Linked DNA regions of Homo sapiens. The protein of the gene in region 2 interacts with the protein of the main gene of each other region in a pairwise test. Each region holds a gene or a part of one and is shown on either strand. Other genes may lie near its edges.

What was found.
Region 1: the proteins of ELAVL4 (region 2) and RNF111 interact in binary tests that used the Homo sapiens proteins (3 or more experiments, as listed by UniProt).

What each region holds. Positions count from the first base shown.
Region 1 is NC_000015.10:59,088,433-59,096,510, reverse strand, and holds part of RNF111 (E3 ubiquitin-protein ligase Arkadia), read right to left. Parts: intron 6,845-8,078; coding exon 6,752-6,844; intron 5,453-6,751; coding exon 5,357-5,452; intron 3,999-5,356; coding exon of another isoform or gene 3,975-3,998; coding exon 3,871-3,974; intron 1,729-3,870; coding exon 1,611-1,728; 3' UTR 1-1,610. UniProt on the Homo sapiens protein: E3 ubiquitin-protein ligase. Required for mesoderm patterning during embryonic development. Acts as an enhancer of the transcriptional responses of the SMAD2/SMAD3 effectors, which are activated downstream of BMP.
Region 2 is NC_000001.11:50,188,250-50,196,327, reverse strand, and holds part of ELAVL4 (ELAV-like protein 4), read right to left. Parts: intron 2,564-8,078; coding exon 2,410-2,563; intron 768-2,409; coding exon 542-767; intron 1-541. UniProt on the Homo sapiens protein: RNA-binding protein that is involved in the post-transcriptional regulation of mRNAs. Plays a role in the regulation of mRNA stability, alternative splicing and translation.

The DNA of each region.
Region 1 (8,078 bases), on a different chromosome or scaffold from region 2:
TTTGAGTGAGATCACTATTGTTGAATTCCAAGATGTTTAATGTAAACTGTTTTTATAAAAACTAATTATGAAACACAAAGACAATAGAAATATAAGTTATTTATTAATCAATCCACTTACAAAGCAGGTGGCTTAATGCAAGCTTATTGACATCTTCACATATGATCCATGGGAACATGTCCTCCACATACAGACAGTGATATTACTGACTGGATGCATTTGCAATCTGGGGCATATTAAGCATATTTAAACAAATAAAATTAGGCTATCCTGTATATGAAAGTATCTTGATAATAATATGCATCCTGAAGTAGATTAAAACTTCCTCCAAAGGAGAAATGTTAGTATGTTAACTTAACTTTATATTCTATATTATGCAGTAAATCTTAACTATAGAAATTAAAAATTTTAAATCAGTGATCGACTCTTGGTAATGTATGAAGTGGGAGTATATAACCATAGCAACAGTAGGTTGACAGTATAATTTGTGCCTCACAGTATCTGCAGATTTACTGTTTTCAAGTTTAGAGAGAAATAAAACAAGAGACATGTAGATTCAGCTGACTTTATTTACCTTTAAACTAATAAAAATCCCTTAAAAGTGATCCTGGGACCTTTATAAGTTCTATGAATGCACAGATACCTGCCAGTGACTTAAATTCCAAATCTTGACTTAATGTGTCTACAAAATCAATGTAAGCAGATATCTTAACTTTTCGTGCTTAGCAGAAGACAACAAATTCTACATGTCTTTTTCAATTTCCCTAAAATTTTGTTAAATCTGCAAGTATGTACAATCTAGCTAATTGAAATTAATATTTAGTGTTCATCAGAGCTGTTTCACAGCAGCAAAAACTGAATCAGGGAAATAAAATTCTAAATGATGTAGGAAAAAGATAAATGCAATCAGAACAGCAGTCTAAATGTATGATATCAATATTCAACTCTTATCTGCACTGTGTTGAAAGGAAAAGGATACACCAAGAAAATTTATACTGATCACTCTGGTGATGTGACTACCACCTGCATCTGATTTATATGGGTTGTATTCTGTTCCCAGTATTAAGGATGGTATTTAACTCAGAACTCCATATAGTAAATATACAGCAGCCATTTTGTCCTAATTAAGGAATGTCTTAATACACAATATTATCATTTTCTAGAGGATCTTTATACATTAAACTAAAGTACATGATTGATTAAATTAAAGGTTAGTAATGGATAAAAAATTCATAATTATCAAGGCTTGGTACTATGTAAAAAACAAAAAGACCACAAAATTCTACTTACTAAAGCAGCTAACCTTGCCTGCAAGTTTAGGGTCACAAGCCCATAATATGTGCAAAGAAATGCAATACAAGGAACCATGCAAAAATACAGTAAAATGATACAGAAAAATGTCAAATCTAGAAAAAAAAGCTTTTATAAATACATCAAAATCAACTGTATACATAAACTGTAGGTCTAGCATTAGTTGTACCATATAGCAGAGCCAGCACTCTAAGTTCAATGCTTCCAAATCTGCGCAGGTAAGTCATGCCATCTTTGGTTGACTGCAGTACCAGGAAGGATGGGAATGAGAGGGAGGGCAAGAGTTCTGAAACATGGTGTCAACTTTCACTTGGCAGCTGGGCCTCAATGTCCACTCTGCATATGGGGCACTTCTTATTGGTAATCAACCATTGGTCAACACACACTTGGTGGAAAAGGTGCATACATGGAAGACGTCTATTATTGGCAAGAAAACAAAAAGCAAAAATTAATTTTATGATAATTGTACGTAGTTAACAAATTATATATGTAATAATTCAATAATGTTTTGAAGGTACTAAGCATCTTCCTCTTCTATAAAAAACACATCGATTAAATTAGCACTCTGGGCAATATAATATATAAATGATCAAGATAATTAACTTTCAAAGCTACAGGACCAAATTATATAAAATCTTAAAAACTGTAAGAACACAAATTACACTGCCAATTATTCCAGTTTTGTTTTGGTACAGGAGCTGCCAATGCCCTGGAGTTAGCAGTATGTTACCTGTCACATAATATTGCAAATATATTTTTAAAAATCAAATCATCACTGTATTTGTAATGCCCTTTAAAAATACATATTATCTCAAATATATATTTATTACATCATTTAATTCTCTCTCAAAAACATTACAATTCATGTGGCAAATATATAGTAACTACACTTTCCTCACTAAAAAATGTCTTATTGTGCAATGTTATTTTCTATCAAGAATATCTTTACACATTAAACTTAAGTACATAACTGATTAAAGGTGAGTAATACTTTTTTCACGGAATAATTGTTATATACACTTAATATTGTGCTACTGTTTAACAGGTAAGTTAAAAGGAGATGTAATGATTTGTTTGTTTACATCATGCCAAATTACCAATTAGAAATTGAGAAATAAAGCCCCCAAGCAAGATAGGGTAACATTAAATCTGAGTGTTAACAGTGGAATAAAAGTTACTGACTCGTGTCCATTTCTACTTCTAGCAACTGTTAAGAGTTTTTATACACTTTTCAGACTTCCTAATATCTTGTTAAAATAATAGCCTTAAAAAGTATCCCAATTATTCCTTGAACAGTATTGTCAATACTGTAAAAGCAATTAAGTTCCAAATTTATAAACCTTCATTAGAAATACAGTGTGCAAAAAACCTTATTTGTCGTATGGTAGACAATTTTTTTCTCAGCCAACTGAAGAGGTACGACAAAGTTATCCTTATAAATTAGGGCAATAATATTACTACAAGGTTCTGTTATATATGATATAGAACCTGTTTCATATGGCATTATGTTAACATTAAAAAAAAGAACAGGAAGAAAACAATTACTTAAGTGATTATACAAAGAAAATGCCTAAAATTAATATAGGGTTAACATATTAACATTTTCTAAACAACAAAGGTGCAAGAAGGGAATAGTCCTACTAGTTTAGAGGAAATTTTATGACAAAACCAGTTTATAAAAGATGCTATAGCCGAGTGCAGTGGCTTACGCCTGTAATCCCAGCATTTTGGGAGGCTGAGGTAGGTGGATCGCTTCAGCCCAGGAGGTGGAGGTTGCAGTGAGCTGAGACTGCTGCCCTGAGCCTGGGCAACAGAAGGAGACCATCTCCCAGAAAAGGAAAAAAAAAAAAAAAAAAAAAAAAGATGCTGTAAAACAGACTGCATAGGACTAATCTGGATCCCTGTTTAAGTTTTGAAGAACACATTATAACTTTCTAGGACCTCCAAAGCCTCTCAAATTCTCATTTCTGCAAGATTTACAGAAGACAATTTTGACTACGAAATTTCCCTGGCCAAACCTTGTGTGGCCCTACAATAGGCAGTATATTTCCCACTCCCATGTTGGTAACATAGATACTTTAATCTTTTATTGTTTCACTCGCCAGATGAAGCCAGTTCTACGTGCCAGAAATTGGTAACAGTATATGCCAAAAGTAATCTTTATTTGGTTTCCAGTTTACTTTTACTCTTTTTTTTCAGAGACAGGGTCTCACTCTATTGCCCAGGCTGGAGTGCAGTGTGGTGTGCTCAAAGCTCACTGCAGTCTCAAACTCCTGGGCTTGAGCCATCCTCCTGCCTTAGTCTCCTGAGTAGCTGGCACTGCAGGTGCACACCATCACATGCAAATAATTGTACTATTTTTCTTTTTTGTAGAAACAGAGTCTTGTTATGTTGCCCAGGTTGGCCTCAAACTCCTGGCCTCAAGAGAGCCTCTGGCCTTGGCCTCAAAAAGTGCTGGAATTACACGTGTGAGCCATCATGCCCGGTGTAATTTACTTTTCAAATAAAATCCCATGTACAGTTTTGACAATGGATTTTAGATAATTAATATCTAGTTACCTCACATCTTCACCTTCCTCTAAAATAGACAAACAGATAGTACATTTTTCCTCTGTGTCTTCCTCAGTCCCTTCTTCCCCATCTTGTTTGCAGTGCAGTTTCCTCTGTGAGAACCAATCAGTTGTTACCTTATTAGTAGAGATGACATTATTGAACAACTGAGTAAAGTCTGTGTTTATTTGAAAAACAAAACAAAACAAAACCACATATTCACCCGCACTTTTTTCCCAGGTAAGACTGTCATAAATAAATGGATGAATTAAGTGACTATCATCAATTAAGTATATTTTTAAGACCCTCTAATAATTGGGATCAAAAGCAAAATCAAATTTAACAGAAATTCATTCACTTAAAAGCTATTACTTTTAATCCACAATGAGAATGATAAACAATATAAACTATTTTTATCCTACCATGAGCATAAATAAGTTTTTTTTATTAGTGAATGTTTCAAGTAACATCCATTTAAATTAACATTAGTTACAGTATTTAACTTGGACAGTTGAAAACTTGAATGTACTGGTAATACCTCAATACTCTTTGAAAATAGATGAAAAATACAGAGAATAGTAATTTTCACACTTTATGATTATTCTTTACATAGTATAAAGGAGTCTCCAACCCCTGGGCTGCAAACCAGTACCTGGCTGCACAGCAGGAGGTGAGTGGCAGGTGAGCGAGCATCACTGCTGGAGCTCTTCCTCCTGTCAGATCAGCAGCAGCGATAGATTCTCATAGAAGCGTGAACCCTATTGTAAACTGTGCATGTGAGGGATCTAGGTTGCATGCTCCTTAAGAGAATCTAACTAATGCCTGATAATCTGAGGTGGAATAGTTTCATTCTGAAACTATCCCCTCTGCCACCTATCCATGAAAAATTGTCTTCCATGAAAACTGGTCCCTGGTGTCAAAAAGGTTGGGGACCGTTGGTATTGAGCATGGTTTAAGACACGTATTTAACATGTCTACCCCATAACTGTATAATGCTATACAAGCAACTGAGGGTAGAGTAGAAGAAACATACATCAATAAAATGTCCGTCAAAATAAATTGCTAGTTAAAAAAATTACAGTACTGCCATATGATGGAATTCTGCATAAGCTATTAAAAATAATAAGGGTGATCTGTGGGAGCTAATTGGCATGAAAGGCAATCTGCAAACTATGTGGTAATCATCTCCTTTTGTGTTTTTTTTAAAGTAGACAAAAATATATATACATATGCACATTATTAGAAAATGCTAAAAAATATCTAGAAGAATATCTAAATCCTTAACTATGATTTCACTTCTGGGAAGAAGGACTAGGGTCTGCAGAGTAAAAAACTGCAAAGTATATATTTTTTATACTTTCCAAAATTTTTAAACAATATGTATGCATTACTTCAATAAAAATGTCATTGCTAGAGTCTACAAATTCAAAAAAGGTATATATTACATTTATGCCTTTCAGTAACACTCCAGAAGTTTCATAGAATAAATTCTTACCTTTTTGTATTTATGTGGATATGTACATCTTTCAATTGTCCCCTGGGATGCTCCACGATTGACATTGCCTAATCTTTCTTCCAAATGAATCAGTTCCTGAAAGTGAAGAATATAATGACTGGTAAAAGCCAAGATGATTATTCCTTGAACAGAACTGTCAACATTGTATAAGAAATAAACCTCCATACTTAGAAACTTGCAATATAAATACAGTGTTCAAAAAAACTTACACATGACAAGTGGTTACTTATATATAAGTATATATATAAAACAGTTTATATGTTGCCCAGGCTGGTCTCAAACTCCTGGCCTCAAGTGATCCTCCCACCTCGGCCTCCTAAACTGCTGAGATTACAGGTGTGAGCCACCATGCCTGACTTAATGTTTCTCATAGACAGTAAGGCAAATGGTTGTTTATCATGTTTTCCTCAGCCAACTGAAATGGTACAGCAAAAGTTATCTTTATAAATTACAACAATATTATCACATGGTACTATGTAAGTCAGTATGTATGTATGTATGGAGAAGATGAAATAATTCTAGTAAATTAAGGAACCAAATCAAACAATAGTTCTAAGTCACAATGACTCCAACTTCCAAACTGACATAAAAAAAACACAACGGGGGCCGGGTGCGGTGGCTTGCGCCTGTAATCCCAGTACTTTGGGAGGCCAAGGTGGGTGGATCACTTGAGGTCAGGAGTTCAAGAGCAGCCTGGCCAACATGGCAAAACACTATCTCTACTAAAAATACAAAAATTAGCCGGGCGTGGTGGCGGGCACCTGTAATCCCAGCTACTCAGGAAGCCGAGGCAGGAGAATTGCTTGAACCCAGGAGGCGCAGGTTGCAGTGAGCTGAGATTGTGCAACTGCACTCCAGTCTGGGTGACAGAGCAAGACTCCATCTAAAAAAACAACAACAACAAACAAACAAACAAACAAACAAAAAAACAAACCACAACAAAACTTTAAATCCCATTCGAATGATTTGTTCTTCCTGAAAATTCAAACAAGACATTTAGCTACAAAGGGAATTACTTAAGTTTCTTTTTCTCTACCGATTTCTCTAAAAATTTAGCTGAGTCAAAAACATTCCGTTCCCCACCACATTTAATGGTATAGTTATATATCTGACATTTATATTGATTTAATACATTTTTATATTCTTCTATATTAGATATTTTCATTTACTCATCTTTAAATATTTCGGTAACTTTTGACCCTAAGATTAATAATACTTACAAATATTTCTGTAACTCCCAGAAGCAACATCAGAAAATCACATGTGATTCCCAGCCACTGTAGCAGTCCTACACAATTGTGTATAGTAGTATATATATACTCAATCTGCATTAAAGATACTGTGACAAACATATTCATTTATTTTATTACATACCTCAAAATTGCCCCTGAAAGGACCTCTGAATGATGTTCCATCCAATCCTGATGAAATGTAACGGATGTGAGGATAGCCTGCCATATCAGGAACCTATTTCAACAGAAGAGATAGGCTAAATCAATTTTAAGAATAGACTTGTGATTTACTGTTAACATTGAATAATTCAAGACCCTCAATGTTTTCAATTCAACTGCTCATAAAATTTGACTTCAATAAGAATACATAACTCCAACTAAGCATTCTGTAACAGGTTTAGGTTTCTGTTAAAATATAACCTAACTCTCCAAAATGCCCAAACTTAAGCCTGAGGCTCTTAGTAGCTCAAACTTGAAAAGAGTAAAATTGTCTTAAGATCCTGTCCATTTCAGAGAGCTTTATTAAAACAACAACAAAAAATGCACACAATTTTCCAACAAAATTCGACTTCAAGATAAGTTTTTTACTTCACTTCTGTTAAGCTTCCTAACAGCCAAAGTACCCTATGCCTTTTTTGCTTGATTCTATTAGGGAAACTTTTAACACTGTTTTCTAATTTTTTGTTAGTTACAGTCAATCTTCATTATTTATGGATTACATATGTGTGAACTGACCCACAGGCTAAAATTTACTTGTAACCCCATAATCAACACTTGTGCTTTCAGAGTCATTCGTGGATATGACCGGTGGCAAAAAATTGCAGTTGCCCAACATGCAACTCTGTTCCCAGCTGAGGTAGAACAGGGCTCTGCCGTATTTGAGCTCCTACTATAAACCAGTGTCTTGTTTGCAGACTGTTTAGTGCCACGTTTTTCACAGTTTTGTGCTTTTTGTTGGTGATTGTGTTGTTTAAAATGGCACCCAAGCATAGAGCTGAAGTGCTGTCTAGTGTTCCTAAGCAAAGAAGGCTGTCATACACCTTATGGAGAGAATAAGTTTCATTCACGCATGAGTTACAGTGTTGTTGGCTATGAGTTCAATGTTAATGATTCTACAATATTTTTTAAAGTTGTCTTTAAGCAGAAACACACATAAAAAAGGTTATACACTGATTAGTTGTGAACAGAGGTTTGCAAGGGTCCCATATTTGCTAATTCAGTGTTTGCAGCAACTGTATAGATCATAACTGCCATGCATAGTGAGAGTATTAGGAAAGGGCATTTCTGAGATACAGCACCATTCTTCCATCTTTATAAATAAATCTCTGACATTACTTTTTAATTAGCCTACACTGAATCACAACATACTTTAAGCAGAATTTATAGCTTTAACGGACACTTCATATGTGGAAAAGAATTTAAATAAGCAATAACTTTTAACCTTCAATAGCCTATTACTTAAATTGTTT
Region 2 (8,078 bases):
TCAGGCTTGGACAGGATCTTCCTCCCTATCTTCCCAGAATCTACTGACTTAACATAATAAGGTTAACACCAAAGGCACTTCCCCCTCCCCTGAACTCAACAGAGTTACCTGCCGAGGGAAAAGAAGATAGGAAAAACAACTCCTTCTGGCAAGGATCTGCCTTATGGTCTATTTTTTGAATTTATTAAAAGCCACTGTCCAGCCTTAAGTCTAATCTGCTGAATGTGGTCACTGATCTGTGATTAACTCTTGTTGAAACTGAACCTTCATGTTTGGTTAAATACAGACATTTTGTTTCTACCAAAGAATCTAAAGTTTATACAGTCACAGTAGTAAATTGGAAGAGGGCTTAGAAGGGCATCTGCTCCAACTGTCTCATTTTACAGGAATGGAAACTGAGGCTCGGGGGGAGTTTTGCACAGTGATTCCTGGGGGTGGAAGCTTTTACCCTTGCCCCATTTGTCAGGACCATGGGCTTCCCTGGCTCTTGCCCAGCTATGAACCCCTGTAGCAGGGCTTCTTCCTCTTTGGGCATGCCTACCTGAACCTCTGAGCCTGGTGGTGAAGTGGACCTGGGTAGCGCCGGTTGGGGGACTGGTAGAGCTGGGAGAGCAGGGCCTGGCTGGACTTCTGGCTGGGGTTGTTGGCAAACTTCACAGTAATCGGTTCCGTAGCACCGCTGGGCTTCTGGCCATTCAGCCCTTTGATGGCTTCTTCTGCCTCAATCCTCTTATCAAAGCGGATGAATCCCACCCCTCTGGACACTCCTGGGGAAAGAGAAAGAGCCTTTGTAAAGAGTGAACACACCAAACTGGTAAACATCTTTGGGAAGAGATGGGTCCTGTGGATATTGTGTGAGGAGTAAGCCCACCTGTGGTGCCAGGGCTGAGCCCAGCTCCCTGATCTCTCTCACCAATCAAAACACGTTTACCTGCATTCCTGCTATCATGGCTCTGGACTGATGCCTCCCAGCCACAGAACACAGGGCTCTCTTGCATCTGGCCCCTCTAGTCCTCTATCACTGCTCTGCCCCATCATCACCTCCCAAAAGTTACTATAACTGATCACTCACTGTCCAGTTTCTAGTCTTCTCATGTGTCCTCCACATGTAGCTAGTGTGCAATCTATTTGAAAAGTGAACTCTGACCACATGATATGCTTTAAAAACATCTTCTGTATCTCTTTTGTACTTTTTGAATTTTGTACCTTGTGCATAGTACCTATTCTTCACTGACTCCCATTCTAAAATGAATAACAAACAAACAAAACCTACAAAATACCCTTCCATGGCTCCATTCTGCACCCAGATAAAGTCCAGACTTCTTGGCACAGCATTCAATGCCTCTGGCAATCTGGCCCCAAATTCCCTATTGAGGCTCACACCAGCCACCCTGAACTGCCTGATCCTCCTCGAATAGACTGTTCTTCCTCGATTCCATGCCTTGGGATATGCTCTCCTCTCCACTTACACTGCTCTGTCCCTCCTTTTTGCTGGATACCTCTGAAACATCCTCCAAACTCCTATTCAAACATTGCCTCCTCAATGGGGCCCTCCTAGCAATTCCCACCAGGCATGGCACACCTTCTCCTGAGCTCTCAGGGGCACTTGACAGCTTCTAGCAAGTATTTGGACTCCACACTGGAGTCCTGTAAGGGTGGGGCAGTGCCTGCTTCTTTCTTGGTCTCCAGGGTCCCTCTGCACAATGTCTAGGGCAGAGCAGACTTCTGTGAAGGTTTGTCTCATGAATCACATGATAAACGTGCTAAACTATTCTCAGGGGGTGAGTTCTAAATTGGAATCAAATTGGAGGTAGGCGAAAACACCTTGTCATTAAAAGTGCAACCCAGAGTACCTGACATTTCTTACTGAGAGGTGGTGGCTGCCTTTCTTTATTATGGACAAAGAACACCAGTACCAGATCCTCGGTTCAGATCCTTGTACTGCTACTAACTAGCTTTGGGGAGTCAGATCCCCCACTTTCAACCTGTTTCCTCAAGTGTGAAATGGGACAATTCCTTCTAACTCTATAATGCTATGAATTGGAGTTACAGCTATGCATACAGGTTCTTTTCACATACAAAAGTAATGTTATTTGGTTGAGGGCTGAATCAGACTTTGAAGGTCATACAGTTCCACTCTCAGCCTGATGCCTGAATCCTTTTTACAACCCTGGCAAGTAGTTTAGCTGCTGCTAAAACAAGTCCCATGATGGAGAACTCCTACCTCCCAAGATGGCCCATTTTAAATTTGGGCAGTTGACCGATAAGAAGTCTTTCTTCCAAGTCAAAAATCTGTCTATTCATGATCCATATCATCTGCTTTAAGCAGCCATCAGCCTTCTGCTCTTATGAGTAACAGGGCTGATGACATTGATATACAAGGAAAGAAATTACAAAGAAACACTTAACCTGTGACTTGATCAACCAGGATTCGTGAGGTGATGATACGGCCGTATTGCGAGAAAAGTTGCTCCAGTTCCTTCTGGGTCATGGTTTTGGGAAGGCCGCTAACATAGAGGTTAGCATCCCTGATTGAGGCAGAGCTCGGACGGGCATATGAGACCTAGGAAAAGGCAAGAGGAGCTAATTCCATTATAGGCAATCACCCTCAGAGTAGATGCTGAGTCCACAACCAAGATGACAGCCCCTCATCTACCGTTACAACTCATGGTGTCAGTTTAAATCACTCAGTAGTTCAGATTTTTAGCTACCCTTGTAATAGTAATGAGAACCAGGAGAACAACAATAGAGGAACAACAGGAGAGTTGACAATAACTTAAAACAAATGCACAGATAAGGGTCTCTAAGTGCAGAACAAAATAGCTACTGTATGGCAGCTGTTAAATGCAGAGCTACCCACACATGGAGTTCTGAAGATTTACCTCCTGGAAGTGGGTGTATAGATGATTTACTGTATCCAACACATAATAATCTTTGAATAAACCAGAAAAAAAAAAAAAACCTCATGAAATTCTGCTCTGCACATTTCTCTCCTTGCCACCCTCCCTACCCCCATCCCCTTCTTCCTGAATACATAAAAGCAATCAGGTTCTCTGCAAGATTTTTTTATGTTCCATCCTTTGTGTTGCTCCAGTCTGTTCCCATGAGGTCTGCTCTCACCAAATGACAAAGTGCTGGTGAAATAGGGCTGAATGAACATCTGCTTGCGAAACTGGATATGTGACCTTGTCGTCACATCTGCAAGGACCAGTCGCCTCTAACTTTGAAGCAGGGCAGATAAAAACCACAACAAATAAAATGGGGGCAAGATGGAAAGGAGGGAGGGAAAGGGCAGTAGAGAGAGAGAAGAGAGCCTCACCAATGGTTATAATAAGTTCGACTTTGTAAATTTGTCCTCCCAGATCTCTCAACTGCTTTTCTTCCCCCCAAAAGCTAACACAGAAGTGTAAACAGATCTGAAATTCCATCTGCAAGAAGCCAAATCTGTAGCAGTACACATAAGCAAAGCAAACCCCAGCAGTCATTAATTTTAGACTTTCATTTACTTATTTATTTATTTTTTAAGAAAACAACATCAGACATTTGAAATATAATTTACAGCTAGTCTAACAAAAGCACTTTCCTGCTAAAGCTATTTCTGGGGTGGTTATGGCTCAGAATAGATGATGAAAACAGTCATTTCAGAGCACATCTGACAACGTTGGACAGGAAGAGACCTATATGCCTTAGCGTTTTTCAGTTGGAAGTTCTATTTAATCCATACAACTGATTCATAAGACCTATTAAGACTGTAGGGGTGAGAGTGTGTGTGTGTGTGTGTGTGTGTGTGTGTGTGTGTGTGTGTGTGCGTGCACACAAAAGCATGTGTGCAAAAGGAATTGAACACATTAAACCAGACCTTTGACATTAAGACCTAAACCTCCAGCAGTAATGTGGACCCTGCTTCTGTGACCTTCAGGGGAGAGAATGGGTCTAGCAAAGAAGATGAAGGATGAGCAGAACCCTCATCCATGGCACTCTCCCCCTTTCCATGACAGACATGCCAGGTCCCTTTATGGGTTCCATGCCTAAAAATAGATGTTGACTCAACAGATAAAATGATGTGAGTGACTAATCTGCCTCCCTGGCCTCCTCCTGCTGATGGAGTGAGGCAGCTGCCTTCAGTATCTCCATCTTCTAGAAACTCACGGGTGGGCTGGGAGGCCTCTGTGGGCTCCTTCTCAGCACATGGCTGAGATGTAGAGGGGCCTTTATATAGGGGGTCCCAGTGTGTGCATTTGCAGTGTGGGCTGAAGGACTAAGAACCCCATGTGACTGTCTGGACAGGGCTTCACTCCACAGAAGGTTCTCCCACCCCTGTTCTTTAAGGGACAAAGTGTGTCAATAGCAGAACTATTTTTTGAGTAAGAGGAAGAAGTGGAAGAAGGAAATAAAAACATCATAGTGATATGCCCATGGCAATGAGGGTCACCCTTGTTTCACCTTGCCAATTACTGACAAATTAATTATCCGAATGACATTTGTGCTCCCTCAAAACACAACCTACCACCTTTATACCTTTGCTCATACAGACATTTTTTTTATACCTACTTCCTCAAGTCCAAATCCTACTCCTCTTCAGGGCTCAGATCAAATGACATCTTCTCTAGGCAGCTTTCTCTAATCTCACCTTCTCCTAAAAATCTCCCCAGCAGTGTTCTCAATGAACCATGGTACTTAACCCGTTTCAACCTTAACTGACCACCTCTCCATCTAGGCTGATGATCTCTTTAGGTTGTAGGTCTTGTGTGTGTGTGTGTCCTATTCAACTCTGTGACTCTAGCTCCCAGCACATAGCCTGATACCTATAAAGTGTTCAACACCTACTGAAAAAATGAATAAACACCCACAGCTCATGAGAAATGATGTTGATATTATTGGCTCTTTGGAGTTAACTGTAACTCCAGTAAGGTGGACCACTGAGAGTCAGGCACCCAGAATCCCAGCTGTGTTTCTCCACCAAGCTAAGAGCTAAGGGACATATTTCCCATTTTCCAATGCCTGGGGCTGGAAGGACTGAAAGAAGATTGTTCTAGGACTAGACCTCACATAGAGGCCTTCTCTTAGCAAATATTTCCTGAGGATCTACTATGAGCCAGGTACAGTGGTATGTGTTGGCAACACAGCAAGAACAAGGCATAGTCTCTTGCTGTAAAGGAACTCCAAGTCCAAAGAGGGCAACAGACAACACATAAGAGGCACTCAATAAAATGTGTTGAACAAAAGAATGGATGAGTAAACATACAGACCAATTATCACAGTGCCACAAGATGTGTGTGTTATGCCAGGGATACATATGAGTGTGACTAAAACACAGAGGAGGGAGAGATTAATCAAAGGTTAAAAGGGCCGGGAAGGAGACACAGCTGAGCTGAGACTGGTGGTGAGAAAGGTGGTGGTGGAGTCAGGTAATGGTGGCCTGATAATAGCCTTCCTCTGTCACGAGGACAAATGAGGTGATGAAGATCAAGGGCTTAGCACAGTACCTGGCACCCAATAAATGCATAATGGATAGTCATGACCTTAACTCCCATTAGTTCTGCACAGCCAGAGCTAGGGTACAGAGGGAACAGGGTGAACCCTGCCAGGGAAGAGGAGCTGGCACTTGAAAGTTGGTGACACAACAAAAACCATTTCCCCAAAAGTTGATTCCAACATAGGTAGAATCTCAGCTAGGGAGAATTACTGCAACACATCTCCAGAGACAGACCCTAAATCCCCAAAGGCAGCAACAAATCCCAAAGGTGAACAGCACATCAATCATTCTCTACCAAGTCTAATTCCTGTTTAGTATTTCTCACCTATATGGAACCTTAAGTCTATTGTTCTCTCAGTTTCCTGTCCATGAAACCTGTGGCGTATGGATAAACAAAAATGACAGAAAAAAGATCTTCCTGCATTGAATATCCAAATGTTCATCCTAGTACCTAAAATTTTCAACTTTCCATATACATGTATTAAATTCTAACTGAATGACTACAGTGGTCAGGCCCTTGGTTAGGCTGAAAGATTTCCAAAAAATTGCCAATTTTCAGGGTCAGCATTGATGGCATATTAATGCCCCTGGGCCAGTGGCCTGGAGTCACAGGGCTTCCAACACTGGAGCCAGCGCCCTGGAGAACCCCCCTTGCCTCAGTCAGGATCCTGTTTGCTTCATTCATCCAGAATCTCTGAAGACAAGACTGGCATCTCTAGGCCAGCACTGACCTCCTTCTGGAACTCAGAAAGGGCTGGGAGTGAAGAAGCCACTCCTCTCTCTGGGTAGGGGTGGCTCAAAGCCAGGTGACTGTAAGCAGCTGACTTTACAGATGATCTCTATGGAAGATCTGAAGTCCCTCCAAGCTCCTCAGCTCTCCCCATCCCTGGTGCTCACAGTCTTCCCATCCTCCACCAGAAGGATGCTATAGCATCATGCTTATGATCCCTGACTGTGGGTCAGCTCCAGTACTCACTAGCTGCATGACCTTAGGCAAGTAATTTGATCTTGATAAGTCTCAACATCTTTGCTCGTAAAAAGGGGGTCAATTATCCTTTGATGGGTTATTGTAAGAACTGAGTTGATATATTTGTCTAGCACATACCTAGAACTTAGTAGATACTTACACATATTATTATGTGATGAGTCATACAGGCTTTTGTGGGCCAGCCTGGGAATCTAGCTCCCATTGGGACATACCCTCCAATTTCACCGGAAAAAAACCCCCAAAAAACAAACAAAAAAAACATGTGGAACACTACCAGGGAATGCCTGTAGAGGCACTGCCCTCCTCTGCCACCCTGGTGGGGTCTGGACCATCTTTTACCACTTTACTGACATGAATGTCCTCTAACACATTTCCACAGATCCCACTGCTTTATGCCGACAAAGTACTTTCCACTTTCCAAAGTGACTTCCCAATTCTGCTCTCAGCAAGTCTCACCAAGGTGGGTAAAGCAGGCGTTGTCATTCATCACAGATGGGGCATCAGGACGAGGGCTGAGGGCTGCCTCTTCCCATGCAGCACCCACAACTCCCTTTACCTGTTCATACACAGGGCTTGGCCTGGGCAGGGTGGGAAGAACAGCATGACCTGAGGAAGAATGTTCCCTGAATCATCCAGCAATACCTCACTCCTTGTCTGTCCTCCATAATACAGAAAAGGGAGAGGACATGGAAAACACGATAAAGGCATGTTGGGTGCAATGAGGAGGATAAAATGAGAGGGAAAAGGCATCCTTTTTAGCCCCAGAAAATTGCTCCTTTAGAAAAACACTGGCATTAGAAGATGGGAGTTCATTCATTCCTCCCCTTCCTAAACATCTACTATGTGCCAGGCCCTGGGATGGGTGTTGGGAATGTCTCTGCTTCACGAATCCCAGTCTGGAAAGGAAAGTAAACAAATGAAGCATGCAATACAGAGGGCTGCTTCCAACAGGGAGATACTCATTTCCCACTCCCAGTGTTTCCTTCCATGTGGAGAGAACCCCCTGCAGCAACAGACCAGGCCTATTGCTATCCCTTCATCCACTCTTCCCCAGGGAAAAGAAGTGACTCCTCTGAATGGAGGCTTCAATAAAAGAAATGGGCATGTGAGGCTCAAATGCTGCCTGCTTCTTCCCTTCTGGGAGCCAGACGCCAGCTGGAAGCACACATTCTGTTCCAGGCTCTCAGTCTTATGGGGGCAGGCTCTGCTCTCGGCCTGTGGGGTCTAGAGCACTTGTGACAGGGTGTGTCAGTCTGTCAAAGTGTAAAGTTCAGTGTTATGGAGCCCACTGTGTCCATGCAACCCATCCAGGCCTTAATTGGCAATAAAGATGACCTTAGGATTCCATACACTTTTCTCTTTTGTCTTACTTCTCAATTGGTTTAGAACTTGGATGTGGAAAACAGCAACGCCATTTGTTGGGCCCCTGTGGATTAGAGTAATGACGTGGCCTCTATCATTGACTGGATTTTTTTCATGAGCCAGGCATTCTGTTCACAAAACTGCAAATTTCTATAACTGTGGTTCATAGTAAGTGGAGACATAGTAAGTGTCACATAAAGGTGACATACAGTGGCAATGGGGAACTCAGCAGAAAGTTATATTCCTGAAATC